Homo sapiens: one gene and its partner. Each later gene encodes a partner of the first gene's protein in a complex. Each region holds a gene or a part of one and is shown on either strand. Other genes may lie near its edges.

What was found. The genes of interacting proteins can lie anywhere in the genome.
Region 2: the proteins of TBC1D23 (region 1) and STX16 are in contact, whole or in part, in a crystal structure (PDB 8QQF), measured with the Homo sapiens proteins. Residues at the interface, in NP_001186127.1 of Homo sapiens: Leu638, Asn639, Ser640, Val641, Val642, Lys643, Ile644, Thr645, Ser646, Lys647, Lys648, Ser661, Ser662, Ala663, Ile666, Thr683, Lys687, Ile690, Met691; in NP_001001433.1 of Homo sapiens: Asp209, Asp210, Asn211, Thr212, Leu213, Tyr214, His215, Arg216, Phe218, Thr219, Glu220.

The regions. Positions count from the first base shown.
Region 1 is NC_000003.12:100,256,994-100,264,016, reverse strand, and holds the start of TBC1D23 (TBC1 domain family member 23), read right to left. Parts: upstream 3,026-7,023; 5' UTR 2,999-3,025; coding exon 2,946-2,998; intron 1-2,945. UniProt on the Homo sapiens protein: Putative Rab GTPase-activating protein which plays a role in vesicular trafficking. Involved in endosome-to-Golgi trafficking.
Region 2 is NC_000020.11:58,661,258-58,668,295, reverse strand, and holds part of STX16 (syntaxin-16), read right to left. Parts: intron 807-7,038; coding exon 699-806; intron 310-698; coding exon 169-309; intron 1-168. UniProt on the Homo sapiens protein: SNARE involved in vesicular transport from the late endosomes to the trans-Golgi network.

The DNA.
Region 1 (7,023 bases):
TTAGAAGAGGATGGAGGGAAAACAGAAATCACCGACCATGTTAGGGTTCCTCCATTCATGAAAATGAAACCAGCAAAAATACAAAGACACACCAAAGATACATCAATCCTACAAGAGAAAAAATGCTGTCTCTAGTAAACATTCACTCCATGTCCTCTGCCCATGTGAACCAGAGATTCTCACAATCCCTCTAACCTAAGAACTCCCCAGAGGCACCTTAACTGTGGAAACATTTCCCCTCATGGCACTCTATGAGCTGGTTACCGCCAGTTTATGACACAATTCACCGTTCCAAAACAGCAAACTTCAGGCTATAACCAGCTAGGTCACTTTCTGAAAAGTGTTGTAATGTCTGTCACTGATTCTTAAAAGGTGCATTTAATTAGTTAAAAACTTTTTTACTATTTTTCCAGATCTATTTTTCTTTTTTCTCTTGCCATTCTTGCAGGATACCAGAAGCAAAAAGACGTATTTTTCTGCAACTTCTCTCCAACCAGGTAGTTCTCATTCTTACTCTCAAAACAAATTAGTTGTCTTGTCTATGCCCTTGCTTATGCTGTTACTGTCAGGCCTCTGAGCCCAAGCCAAGCCATCGCATCCCCTGTGACTTGCACGTATACGCCCAGATGGCCTGAAGTAACTGAAGAATCACAAAAGAAGTGAATATGCCCTGCCCCGCCTTAACTGATGACATTCTACCAGAAAAGAAGTGTAAATGGCCGGTCCTTGCCTTAACTGATGACATTACCTTGTGAAAGTCCTTTTCCTGGCTCATCCTGGCTCAAAAAGCTCCCCCACTGAGCACCTTGGGACACCCACTCTGCCCGCCAGAGAACAACTCCCCTTCGACTGTAATTTTCCTTTATCTACCCAAATCCTATAAAACGGCCCCGCCCTTATCTCCCTTCGCTGACTCTCTTTTCGGACTCAGCCCGCCTGCACCCAGGTGATTAAAAGCTTTATTGCTCACACAAAGTCTGTTTGGTGGTCTCTTCACACGGACGCGCATGAAAGTTACTCCATTCAGAGGCCTTTCCCATCTCTTAATCTGATTCTGCACTAATATGTTAGCTCCAAGCCATGTGTGGATATTTAATATCTGAAATGTGGCTAGACCAAATTGAAATATAAGGTAGCTGTAAAATGCACATTGGATTTTGAAGACTTGGCACAAAAAAGATGTACAATTATCTAATTTTTTAAACAATGATTACATGTTGAAATATGTTAAATAGATTATTAAAACTGATTTCACCTGTTTCTTTTTAGTGTTTTTTTTTTTTTTTTTTTTTTGAGACCGAGCCTCACACTGCCGCCGGGCTGGACAGTAGTGGCTCGATCTCGGCTCACTGCAACCTCTGCCTCCCGGGTTCAAGCGATTCTCCTGCCTCAGCCTCCCAAGCAGCTGAGATTACAGGCACGCGCCACCACGCCCGGCTAATTTTTATATTCTTAGTAGAGACGGGGTTTCACCATGTTGGTCAGGCTGGTCTGGAACTCCTGACTTCAAGTGATCCGCCCGCCTCGGCCTCCCAAAGTGCTGGGATTACAGGCGTGAGCCACCGCGCCCAGCCTTCTTTTCAGTTTTAAATGCTGCTACTACATAATTTTAAATTACAATATGTGGCTTCTATTAGACAGCCCTGGGGCTTAAATCCTACTTATTCTTCAAAGCCTAGTTGAAACACTGCTGCTTTCATGAAGCTTTCCCCCAGTGACTCCAACTGCCCCAGCCCCCACCGCCAACCTCTCGTAACACTTTGAATCACACTCACAAAGAATAAGATTAATTTTACCTTGTTACACCTTCCCAACTCCAACATAAGCAAGTTGAAGAAAAAAAAACTATATCTAGATCACCATGAAGTTTTCCTCTGACACCTTGGAGAGCCCAGCGCTACGGTAATGTTTGATGTCTGCTAATGGAGAGCTGAATTTCTTAATTACTAATTATCTATCCCTTTCAACGATTTCCATTTTTTTCCTCTGGGATTAAAGTCGATGTCTATCAATGTCCTGTATTATTTTTAAAGTGCCCATGAGCTGTACACATACAATATAACGAACAAGCAAATCCAAAACTAATACATGTGGTCAATACACTTAGATCAACTGTAAAATTTAGACAAGCCTCTAAAGGTCCCTTTTTAAAAAATGATGTTGTACAACCTAACAGTGTATCGTGAGATCAACTATTTCAAAAGTAGAAGCCTTTCCCAAAGATTAACACTGGGTGAGCAGTTTACCAAAAAATTATTGGCGGTCTTCCCCCACAATCCCGAGTATAAATCAGGTAAGCATGCAACAGCTTGGGTGCAGTAAGAGCAAAGTCCCACACTGCATCCAAAGCTCAGAAATCGAGCTGTGAGAAATGTGGTAGTAGGGGAAAAGATGACTTGCGTGAAGGAGACGAACGATGAAAACTGTTGGAATGCAAAACGAGATAACAGCCAGAATAAAAAAAAGTATACCAACTAAGTGGGAGGGATTCTCCTCGGGTCAACCTCTGAACCCTCAGGCGAAGGTCGCAGTGGTCATTTCAAAACGTCTTTTCTTCACATTGTATTTTAGTGACTCAGATCTGCATCCAACAAACTTCCTTCTTCAGCCTACTCCAACTCCCACAGCCAGGACTCCGGCCAAACCCAGCCCTGAAGCCACCCACTCCAGCACACTTTGGAGACTGACAGACGACACAGGAGGACCGTTCTGAGGCCCAGCACCTGGATGACACCCCTCTCCTTGGGAGTCCCGCCCCAGTCCCTTGGGCAGAACCAGGCAGGCAGGGGGCACCCAGCTGGCAGAGGGGTAGGGCAGGGCACCGGACTTCGCCTAGGACCGGCCTCTCCGTTCCATGCCGACGCCAGACGGCTCCTCGGGGACCGGCAAGATGGTGAGAAGGAAGAATAAAGGGGCATTGGAAATTAGCCCCGGCTTTCACTCACCAGCCGTCGCCGCTCGACGTTGGCAGCGGCGGCACATCTTCTCCTTCCGCCATTGCTGTTGACGTCCACGTCACTTTGCCGAAAAGTGGATCCGGCGCTGAGACCAACTCCGAGACTCAATGTCGTAAAAGGTCTTCGGAAGTCCAGCACTGAGCTTCCCCAGAGGGGAAGAAAGAGGGAGGTGGCAAGGGACTGGAGGAACGCAACGTCACGGCGTCCCGAGGCCGAAAGGCAGCGTCTTGGGGGAGGAGACTTGGTGGAGGCAGCTGCCCCTCCAAAGACTACATGTCCCAAGATGCCACGGTGCCGCGGGCGGGGCGGGGCGCGGTGGACGCCGTCCCAGTTGGAGGCCTTGTGTGACAAACAGCGTGTCTTTTTAGCGTCCACTTAGCGTCTTCATTCCAGCTTGGCGTCGAAATTAACAAAGTTAGAATTTACAGTCCTAACTATTGGAGAAAGCAAGGGAAATGGGAATTGACATAGGGAAGGCGGACGTAGGAGAAGAGCCACAGTTCAGTAATTTCCTGCTGTAGCAATTTAATTTGAAGAAAGAGTGGGACGTAAGGAAAGGGGCAGACCACCCCTATTTGTGAGGCCCCGTCAAAAGTGTAAATGAAGGCCCACATACTTTTTGACTGAATATTTAAAAGTTGTAAATGAAGCTATATACTAAAGGAGATACGTTCTAGCCTCCTACCTTAAATATATCTTCCTAACAGTCTGGAAGATCAAGTCCGAATTTAGAATTCTAGGACTGGAATTCCAGGCAAGCAGAGCTGCCAAAATCCTTCTCTACGCGTTCCACTTCCCCTTTACACCGCATGGGCGGACACTTGGCCACCGCCGGGGCCTTGGGGTGAGCACACGCTCAGGAGGATGGACCTAAAGAAACGCTTTTGCAAGCCCTGAAAACAACAGTGATGAAGTAGAACTGCATGTAACAATATGGATACATCTGAAAAATACGCTGTTAAATGAGCAAAACAGATTGCAGACGGATAGGTAAAGTATGGTATCATTTATAGTTGGTGTTTAAAAGACAATATATTTAAAATAGATCCATATGAGTTTAAAATGCAGGAGAATGATATATAGAAAACTCGGAATGGCAGTTACATTCAGGGAAAGGGAGGAGTTTCCATGAATTTTTAAATATTTATTAAGGGCCCCAAGGTGGCCACATAGGTGGCCAGTGTTCTTTATAGAGTCTATACTTAGGTATCTAAAATGTTTCATAGTTTCAAAAACTATTTGTTTTAAATAGATACAAAACAGTACAGCTATCTCATTTACAACCAAAAACATGTTCACTCTCTTCCCTAAAGGGAAATAATACAGATCTGCATGGTACTGCACCCACTTCCAAGGCCCGGATCTCTGTAATGTTCAGTTCTCTGTTAGGGAACATTTCTTTTAACATAGAATGAGACTGTAGATGCCCTCTATCAAAAAGAATAAAAGACGTGAATCTAGGTCACATTACCATTCTAATATTCAGGACCTCCCCTGGGTCCCTTCAATTGTTGCCAGTAGATTTTCAGAAACTTTTCAGAAAATGGTTTTAAAACCTATTCAGTCATTGACATGAGAAGCAGTTGCTCACTGGTTAAGAAGATTCTAGTCCTCAATTATGATTCATTTTGAGTATAATTAAATCAGCAACTGCTTTATAGTCTCTGGTAAAATATTTTCCCATTAAAAATATGTCACTTGACATTTTTAAACAGTTCTTTATTCTGTCAAAATAAAGTGGAAAGTTCTGACTTCTATGTTCTTTAATGGAGCCAGAGCCAGCTTCATGGGCATGTAGTCTATGCAATAGCATGAGACCACATGCTTAGAAGAACTCTGTGCTTGATTTCATGCTCTGGTGTTGCCATCTTGAAATTCTTAATAATTTGGGAACAAGGAGCCACTGGTTTTAATTTTGCACTAGGCCTCACAAATTAGGGAGCCAGTTCTAGATAGGGTCAATATCTTAGTGATGTATAACCCATTGGGGACAAGATTTCAACCAAAATTGTTTAGCGATAGTGTCTTCTAGCGGATTTTTTTTTTTTTTTTTTTTTTTTGAGACAGAATCTCACTCTCACCCAGGCTGGAGTACAGTGGCATGATCTCAGTTCACTGCAACCTCTGCTTCCTAAGTTCAAGTGATTCTCCCGTCTCAGCCTCCCAAGTAGCCAGGACCACAGGCGTGTGCCACCACGGCCGGCTGATTTTTGTATTTTTAGTAGAGACGGGGTTTTGCCATGTTGGCCAAACCATTTTTCTTTATTATTATTTTATTTTTATTTTTCTGAGACAGGGCCTCACTCCCTCAAGTAGAATTTGTTAAATTCTAATAATGGACCTCTGCTTAAAACAAAACAAAAATGCTTTTCAAGAACTAGAGAAGATTTCATTATGAAATCTTGGAGTGCGTCCCCTGCTTGCATTTGTGCATCTAATTGTAGTTCCCACATCCAAATGGGAAGGTGTATTATTTCATATTATCCTTGGATAAAATCAAAGCGTATTTCTTATAACAAGAAAATTAAAATGTCTTAGTTTTAAATTAAATTATAGAGAACATAAAAAGATTTTTCATTTATTATTTGGTGTTCTGAGCCATATAATTATGTAATTTATACTGTATTACATGTACTTAATTTGTACCATGCCTATGACACATAGTAGAATCTCCATAAATATTTGTAAAATGAACTAGGGAATTTTTTGTAGTACTTTTGTAATGGATTAAGCTATTCACCTATATAGAAATGGCTGGTTGGGTTCAGGGACAGGTAAGGATTATGAACTCATCTGCATAGTCATAGTTGTTATGTGAGTAGAATTTAATTCAGTTTTCATTGTAATATTATTTTAGCATTTGTTAAAAAGAGATGGAGAAATAACATAGCTCTTGATCATTTATTCCATATTCGTGCAGCCTTTTCTTGACTTTCGTGCATTCTTAGATAAAGACAAAGACCTAGTAAGATGTTTTAATCTACTGCTGCACAACAAATTACCCCAAAACTCAATGTCTTAAAGCAATAAACACTTAACTCATAATTTCTGTGCATCAGGAATCTAGAAGCAGCTTAGCTAGATGTTCTGGCTTAGGGTCTCTTGAGGTCAGAGGCAAGATGTTGGCCAGGGTTGCAGTCATGCAGTCATCTAAAGGCTTCAGTGGGGCTGGAGGATCCAGTTCCGTGGTGGCTCACTCACATGCCTGATGAGTTGGTGTTGACTGTTAGCAGGAGGCCTCAGATACTCCCCAAATGAGCCTCTCCATGGGCTGCTTGAACATCCTCTTGACATAGTGGCTGGCTTCCCGCAGAGTAAGAGTTCAACAGAGACCAAGATTGAAGCTACAACATTTTTTTTATTACCTACCCTCAGAAGTCGTAAATTCTGCAATATCTTATTGGTAAGCCTTATTCAATGTGGGAAGGAACCACAACAAAGACTTGAATACCCAAAGACAAGAATCACTGGGGGCCATCTCAGAGGCTGGCTGCCACATGAAGTAATATTAAATCCTACACATTCTTCATTGTTCAGTGAAACTTTCCCCTGAGATTCCTGCTCATATCATCTCAGCCCTTCTTACATTCTGTCGCCTCTGACCTAGTTTAGGACCATCAACAGGCACTCTCATCTGGGCACTACAGCATCTTATATTCTTTAACTCTGAGAATGACAACTATTTTTAAGTTCCCCTGTAGCCTCCAGTGCACCAAATGCAGGGCAGAACATATAGATAGTGCTTAAGAGTTCTTGTTAAATAACAAAATATTGATTTTTGTTTCTGCAGCTATTGTGTGAGAGTTTCAGAATTCTAAACTTTCCCAAGAATTTCCCTTTTTATCTTACAAGGACAAATGGTTTCACACTTATCAAAATTACTTCAGTTGTTTGTCGTTTTAAAATCCCATCAGGACCTGCATTCCCAGGCTCTTTAAACTACTGAAGCTTAACATTTGATTGAATGATGAACAAAACCCAGTTAATTCCCATTCACAGATGACAAGTGAACAGTTGGCAGCAATTTCAACATCTGCTTTTAATTCATTTTAAAATGTTGAGCAAA
Region 2 (7,038 bases), on another chromosome or scaffold:
ACAGGTACCTACGCTGACAGCTGGAGGACTTCAGGGCCTCTTGAGGTCCCTCTGAGAACTTCAGGTTGGGAAATGACTCCAGGAGACTGATTCTGAGTAACACTCTAGTTTCTGAGATTGCCATGAGAAGGCTCGCTGGTTTCCCCAGGACTCACTTGCACTCCTCACCTGAGTGATCTCTTGGGTAGTTATCTCAATGGCATGTTCCTCTTCGCTGCTGTCATCCAGGGTGGGTCTGTTTAAATGCTTGTCATGAAGGCTGGCCAATTCTTTCATCTTCTGCTTAATCCGGCCAACATCATACTGAATCTAAGCAAATGAAGTCACAGAACTCCACTGATGCCAGGCAGGCTATGGTCTGCCTCCATCAGCTACACTCAGCATACAGAATTCGGTCTTCAGCAAACTTGTTGGCTTGCTGATGTGTGAGCAGCTTTTAATTCAAATTACCAGAAAATCACATTCTTCCTTGTTGCATGGGGTTTCAATTTCTTCCTATAATTCAGGTAGTTACTACCAATGTTAAAACTACAGCTAAAATCATTAACACACACATAGACAACTTAACCTAAAGCTAAAGTATTTCTAGAAATATACATTCAAGTGTAGCCAAATTCGTTTATATGACAGATATCTTAAAATACATTGTCATAATTACTTAAAAAAACAAGATGCTATGAAACTAACATGGAACTTACTTCATCCACTCCATCCACCCACTTAGGAGGTGGCCGTTTTGTCACACCAATCGCTGCTTCTGGATCTAAGCTGATGCCTGACACCAGTGCCATACGGTCATCAGCAAGCTACAGGAAAGTAAAGGGACATGAAAAAAATTATTCTAATCCAATTTAGATACAAATACTCTTACTCTCTCTTAAATGTTACTCCCTGAAAAGATACAGAAAGGAGTGAATGTTTACTCTCTCTTAAATGTTGCTCCCTGAAAATATATAGAAAGGAGTGAATGCACTTGCCTGTATTATAAACTTGCTTTTGATAACTGCTAGGATTTGGATTGTTTTCCTATCTTTTCATGCACCAGCTCTTAATTTCCTTGGACATACTTCAGAACGTAAATTTGACTTGATCTGGCTATAGAAATGTAATGAAAAAGTCAACAAAAGATCCTTAAAATAAAGACCTCTTACTACTAGTACTGTGATAGAACGGCATGAACCTCAATGATTCTTGTGATCAGTTGCAAGTGAAAAAAAAAACTAGGCAGTAAATGAAACAACTACAAAATGCTCAATAGTAGCAAGGTTTACTTAAATACACTTAGCTTATTTTGGAAATAGGGCTGATCCAGTTATCTCAGTCACACAATCATTAACCATGTGTTAAGATGTGTGAAACAACTGCCTAAAACCGCTAGCAAATTATCTACCATTTGGCAAAAGCAATCCTTAAGATCTCAATGCAATCTTACACTGTCATTTCTTTTCTTCAGTTAAATGTCCACAGGGAACATTTCCCCTTATTTTGAAATGGTATCGATGGTTCCTGTTTATTTTAACTATATAACACACTGCGGTAGAAAGCTTTTAAGAATGGGAGGGAAATCGGCTGGGCGCGGTGGCTCACGCCTGTAATCCCAGAACTTTGGGAGGCCAAGGCGGGCAGATCATCTGAGGTCAGGAGTTCGAGAGTAGCCTGGCCAAAATGGTGAAAACCGTTCTCTACTAAAAATACAAAAATTAACTGGGCATGGTGGCTTATGCCTGTAATCCCAGCTACTCGGGAGGCTGAGGCAGGAGAATCCCTTGAACCCAAGAGGCGAAGGTCGCAGTGAGCCATGATCGTACCATTGCACTCCAGCCAGGGCAACAAGAGCGAAACTCTGTCTCAAAAAAAAAAAAAAAAAAAAAACACACACACACACAAAAAACAGAGGGAAATCATGGGTTTGGCACGGTTAAGCTGTTTTCTTGCCTGCAGGCAGTGAATGGGTTGAAAAGATTTTGAGGTGCCCTCCAGAGCTCAGAATTTTTAAATGCCAGTTTCAAAAGATCCAAATGATGATCAAAATATAATGGAAAATAATCTATAAAAGCCCTTTATAGATAATACTTTGGAAATTTTCTAAATCACACTGTAGAGTTGGGTGAAAAATTCATATTGCTTTTCTTCCCTCTTCCTTGCATTTAACTAAATTTATTTTTTCATTCATTAAATACTTATTTGCTTTTCTAATAATAAAGGAACAAGACAAAATTTTAAAATCCACAGATGAAGGGGGAAAAATATCATATAAAGAAAAACTTAGAATAAAAGACCACTTCAAGTAATAGGCCCTAAATCCTAAAGAGTTCACAGTAAAATTCTTAAAAGCAAATTGGTATCTTCACCATCAACCTCCCTGCATGCCCTGGAGTGGTTCTGCCACCATCTGCTTCAGGCTTTCTGTGTGCTCTGGGGCACGTGTCCACTCAGGGAACGCATCTTAGGCAATGACCACGCTGGAAGGACTAGGCCCCATTCACTAATCCCAGCACGTCCAGGAGCCGTGATTAAGCCCAACGGTGCTCAAGCGTGGCACGGATGCTGCAGGGCCAGTGTCATTTCTTAAACAAATGGTGTGTCATCCAAACCCGCACTGTCTGGGGCTCCCGGGCCGTGAAGTGGTAATTCTCCACCACCACTACCTTCTGTTTGGTTTCAAGAGTTCATCAATAGGAATTTTACATTCTTGACATTATTTTAATCCTCATAAAAACTAGGTGAGTTAGAAACTATTATTCTAACCTATAAATATGGAAATTGAAACTCAGAAAAGTTAAGTCGCTTGCCCAAGGTCACAGAGCCATTATGTGACAGACTGAAACCTGGGTCGGCTGACTCCAGAAACCCCTTCCACCCTCAAAGGTGCCAATCACTCCACAGGCCCATAAACTATAACTGCAATTTGCTAAGAAAATGAATCAAGACAAGCCATCAGATTAAAACAACAAAACACAGTAGTTTGATTCATTTCCCACCAACTACACCAGGCACTATAGGACAGGCCGCCAGTGAGTGACGTTAGTGTCAGTAAAGATCATCCTCTCTTACTGACCATCCGTGGACAGAGAGGCGCAGACCTCACCCTCTACAGAGCAGGCACAGAGAGGGCCTGTGCCAAGCACTCAGAGGCAGACTTGTTTATTCCTCAACACTCCTGCTCCAAAGTCACCAAGAGGTACACAACTCTGTGGAGGACACACTGACTAAAAAGCAGGGGGACAAACCACAGGCCCAGCTCGCAGCACCTGCCAGCCATACATCAGGTGCTGTCTACAGTATTGCTGGACTGGAACAGAACTTGAACTCCAGCTGTTTATACAAAGTAAAATCTAAAATTGCTAAAGGACCTCTTCATGGGTCCTAGAATTTCCACTACACCAGTTTATTATCGAATCCACTATATTTTATTATTACACATTTCAATCAGTAATTATTTATAGTGATTTTAGAGTTTTTAAGCTCATGATCTTATTTTGTACTGTTTTTACTGTTTACAAATACACATTAAACTAAAGAAGACAGAGAGATGGTATCTATCTAAATTTACCTGCATTGGGATTAGTATCATTTTATCCAAAACAACAAATTATAAACCACATATGAAAAGTCGGTTGAAGTGAATACAACTCTTTGAAGCAGTACTTGATTTTATGCATGTGTTCCCCTCAAATTAGATGTAAATCAAAAGTGGGGAGAACACACTCTTTGTTAAGGGTCCTAAGGAAGCTTGCTAATTAGAGATTCCTACATGAACAGCATGGATGCCAGCCTGCTCAGCTGGTACTAGCTTTCCCACACATTGTATCAGAGTTTTGCCAGTAAGATAGAACAGCTGATTCTTTGGGAATGAAAACTTTAAATAGCGAATAATTTGTCTCTTTTATGATACAGTCTATAGCTATAGTTCATTATAATAAAGAAACACCACCCTATTGAGAAGAAATGTGTCATTTCTTTTAGCAGTATGGATTTGTAATGTGTATCACAGTATGTACTATTAAAAAACAAGACAGTATGTTTTGGGAAGGGAAAACAATTGTTGAAGATAAGCGTCAACTATTTGAAATGGGAACAAATATGGACATAAACAAATTTTATGTGCAACATAAGCACCCTTTTAATTTCAGAAACCTCACTTTCCATTTAAAAACATGTCTTCTTATTGTTGAAGATCCAGCATATGTATCAATTTTCAAGCTGCCATCCTATTTCATACAGATCTTAAAAAATGGCCAGGTTTCTAATTCTCTCTCCTTACCCTTACTGAATTTCAACATGGTGCCCCCTCCAAATATATGATGTTGGTTTGTGCAGCTGGCCATGGTGGCTCACGCCGGTAATCCCAGCACTTTGGGAGGCTGAGGCAGGCGGATTGCCTGAGGTCGGGAGTTCAAGACCAGCCTAGCCAGCACGGTGAAACCCCGTCTCTACTGAAAATACAAAAATTAGCCGGGCATGGTGGCATGCACCTGTAATCCCAGCTACTCGGGAAGCTGAGGCAGGAGAATCACTTGAACCCGGAAGGCAGAAGTTGCAGTGAGCCAAGATCGTGCCAATGTGCTCCAGCCTTTTATTAAGACAGAGCGAGACTCCATCTCAATACATAAATAAATAAATAAATTTGTGCTTCTGAAGTAAAAAAAAAAAAATCCATATTTTTTAAATAAAAATTGTACTTAAGAGAATTAAGAATTCTTGCCTCTTTGATATGTAGTTCCTCTCTCCAAGAACTACTGGGGTCCGCTACCCTAACCTAGAGCCATCCTTCCTGAGAGAAATGCAGAAAAAATCCAACAGATGTTCAAAACAGCACACCCAATGGCTTTCCTGCCAGTCTCACTAAAGGTATCTTTTGCCTTTGATCCACTTCAAATGTTGACATTTGTCCATTTAAAGAGTACCAGCCAGTATGGACAAGTTCTCCATCTATGGAAAGAACATACACATTCTCTCTTATAAATCTTGCTGTTCCAAATCTATGGCCCTCCTACTCTTAAAAACCCTGCCTTTCCCTGAAGGCTGATTTAGTGTAGACTAAGATTACAGAAATAGCAAAGCCTCTGTGGAGATTGGAAAAGTCAGCTACACCTCCTCCCCATCTAAAAAAATCAACTAAGTTTAGCCGTAACGCATTGGTAATGAGAACAATACCGATAATTCTGGACTGTCTATGGCAATGAACACTTGGAAAGCCCAGAAGGGACACTGAAAATCAACAGACTGGCAACTCACACTTCCACGTGAAACTCTGGGAGCCTGTATGATGAAGTCAGACTACTTCGCTAATAGACAATTAGGCTTAAGAAATCCGAGTTGTTGGAGAAGTGAATAAGCATGTGGATAAAAGAAAAAAGTGATGTCAGCACTACATTTTTCTAAACCCGTAATAATTTTAAAATAATGCTTACCTTTTCTAATTATGAAATTAGTAAATGGTCAAAATAAATACTTTTAAAATGGCATAGGATGACGCAGTGGCTCACGCCTGTAATCCTAGCACTTGGGAGGCCAAGGCAGGCGGATCACTTGAGCTCAGGAGTTCGAGACCAGCCTGAGCAACATGTCAAAACTCCGTCTCTACTAAAAAATACAAAAATAAATAAATAAATAAAATAGCCACGCATGGTGGCACGCACCTGTAGTCCCAGCTACTCAGGAGGCTGAGGCAGGAGAATCGCTTGAACTGGGGAGGCAGAGGTTGCAGTGAGCCGAGATCGCGCCACTGCACTCTAGCCTGGGCAACAGAGTGAGACTCTGTCTCAAAAAAATAAAAATAAATGATACAAAAAATATAGAGATAAAAACACTTGAGAATCACATCACCCTGATACTGTTGTTAAGTTTCACTGATTTTCCTTTTTTCTCAACTAACATACATACTCTGAGGGGAAGAAAAAGGAGGGGAGCAATCCGTCCCTCCCTGCCTTCTGTGAGCACTGTACTGAGCACTGCTACTGACCTGGCCCATGCCAGTCCCAAGAACAATCCTTCAGAGGAGCGCCGCTCCCTATTTCACCAACATGGACACTGGGGCCCGGCCCAGGCACTCCCAGATGTGCAGTCCTCCAGGCAGTGTGGTTTGGGGGCTTGACATTTGTTATCTTGTGACTTTTAAAATAATTCTTGAGTTTAAAAACTCCCAGAGATTTCTTTGTCATAAGACAGGAAGTAGATTAAAGACAGAGAACAAAGGAGAGGGCCAGACACTTCCCTGGGTAAGAGAACCAATGGTGGGCTCGGGTCCTCCTCAGGGAACACCTTACTTAGTGTTTTCTGAGAAGGAAAAGTGACATCTCCAGGGTACTCAGGCTAGAGGAGGAGAATGACAATCAAACATGGACAGACTGCAGGAAGCCTCTGAAGTGAGGCCGTCAGATGCCTTTACTCTGGGAGATGCAAGTGATATTCACTCAGGGACATTTGCTCAGGCCTCCCCTATAAAGGGGTGGCTAACATCTAATCCACTCTGGAGCTGGGTGTTCACTATTTCCAGAGATGCCAATGTGAGGCCCTGCGTCAGCTTCAAAGAAGCCTCTGGACACTGTCCCCAACCACACCCCCTGCTCCTAGGCCAGTACCTGGCACTTCAGAGTCCTGAACGCACAATCACAACCAGCTGAGTGATCCGACAAGAAACGAGTGGAATGAATGCACGAGGTAAATAAAATGTACGTCACAGACAATTGTGGAAGCCACACTTCATGAAAAAGATAACGGCACTGCACAAAAGAGCAAAAGAGGCAAGTGAAACGCACAAGGAAATGAGGTGGCCGTGGGCACCCACGATGAGGCAGCAACCTGCATTTCTAATAGCACTGGGGTGAGCGTGGAGGAGATAGTGCTCTCTACGCAGGGCCTCTGATCACAGAGCGTGAAGACTCCCTTTTAAGCCCTTAGAGGTGAAACATAAGAAAAGCAAAAGGGCCTGCCAAGTTCATGCAGTGAGTAGCCAGTTTCTGGAACTTGCTGCCTGAAAAAGGAAGTAGGAAAGACTGGAAATCGGTTCAGACAGCAGACCCCGAAGTAATTATG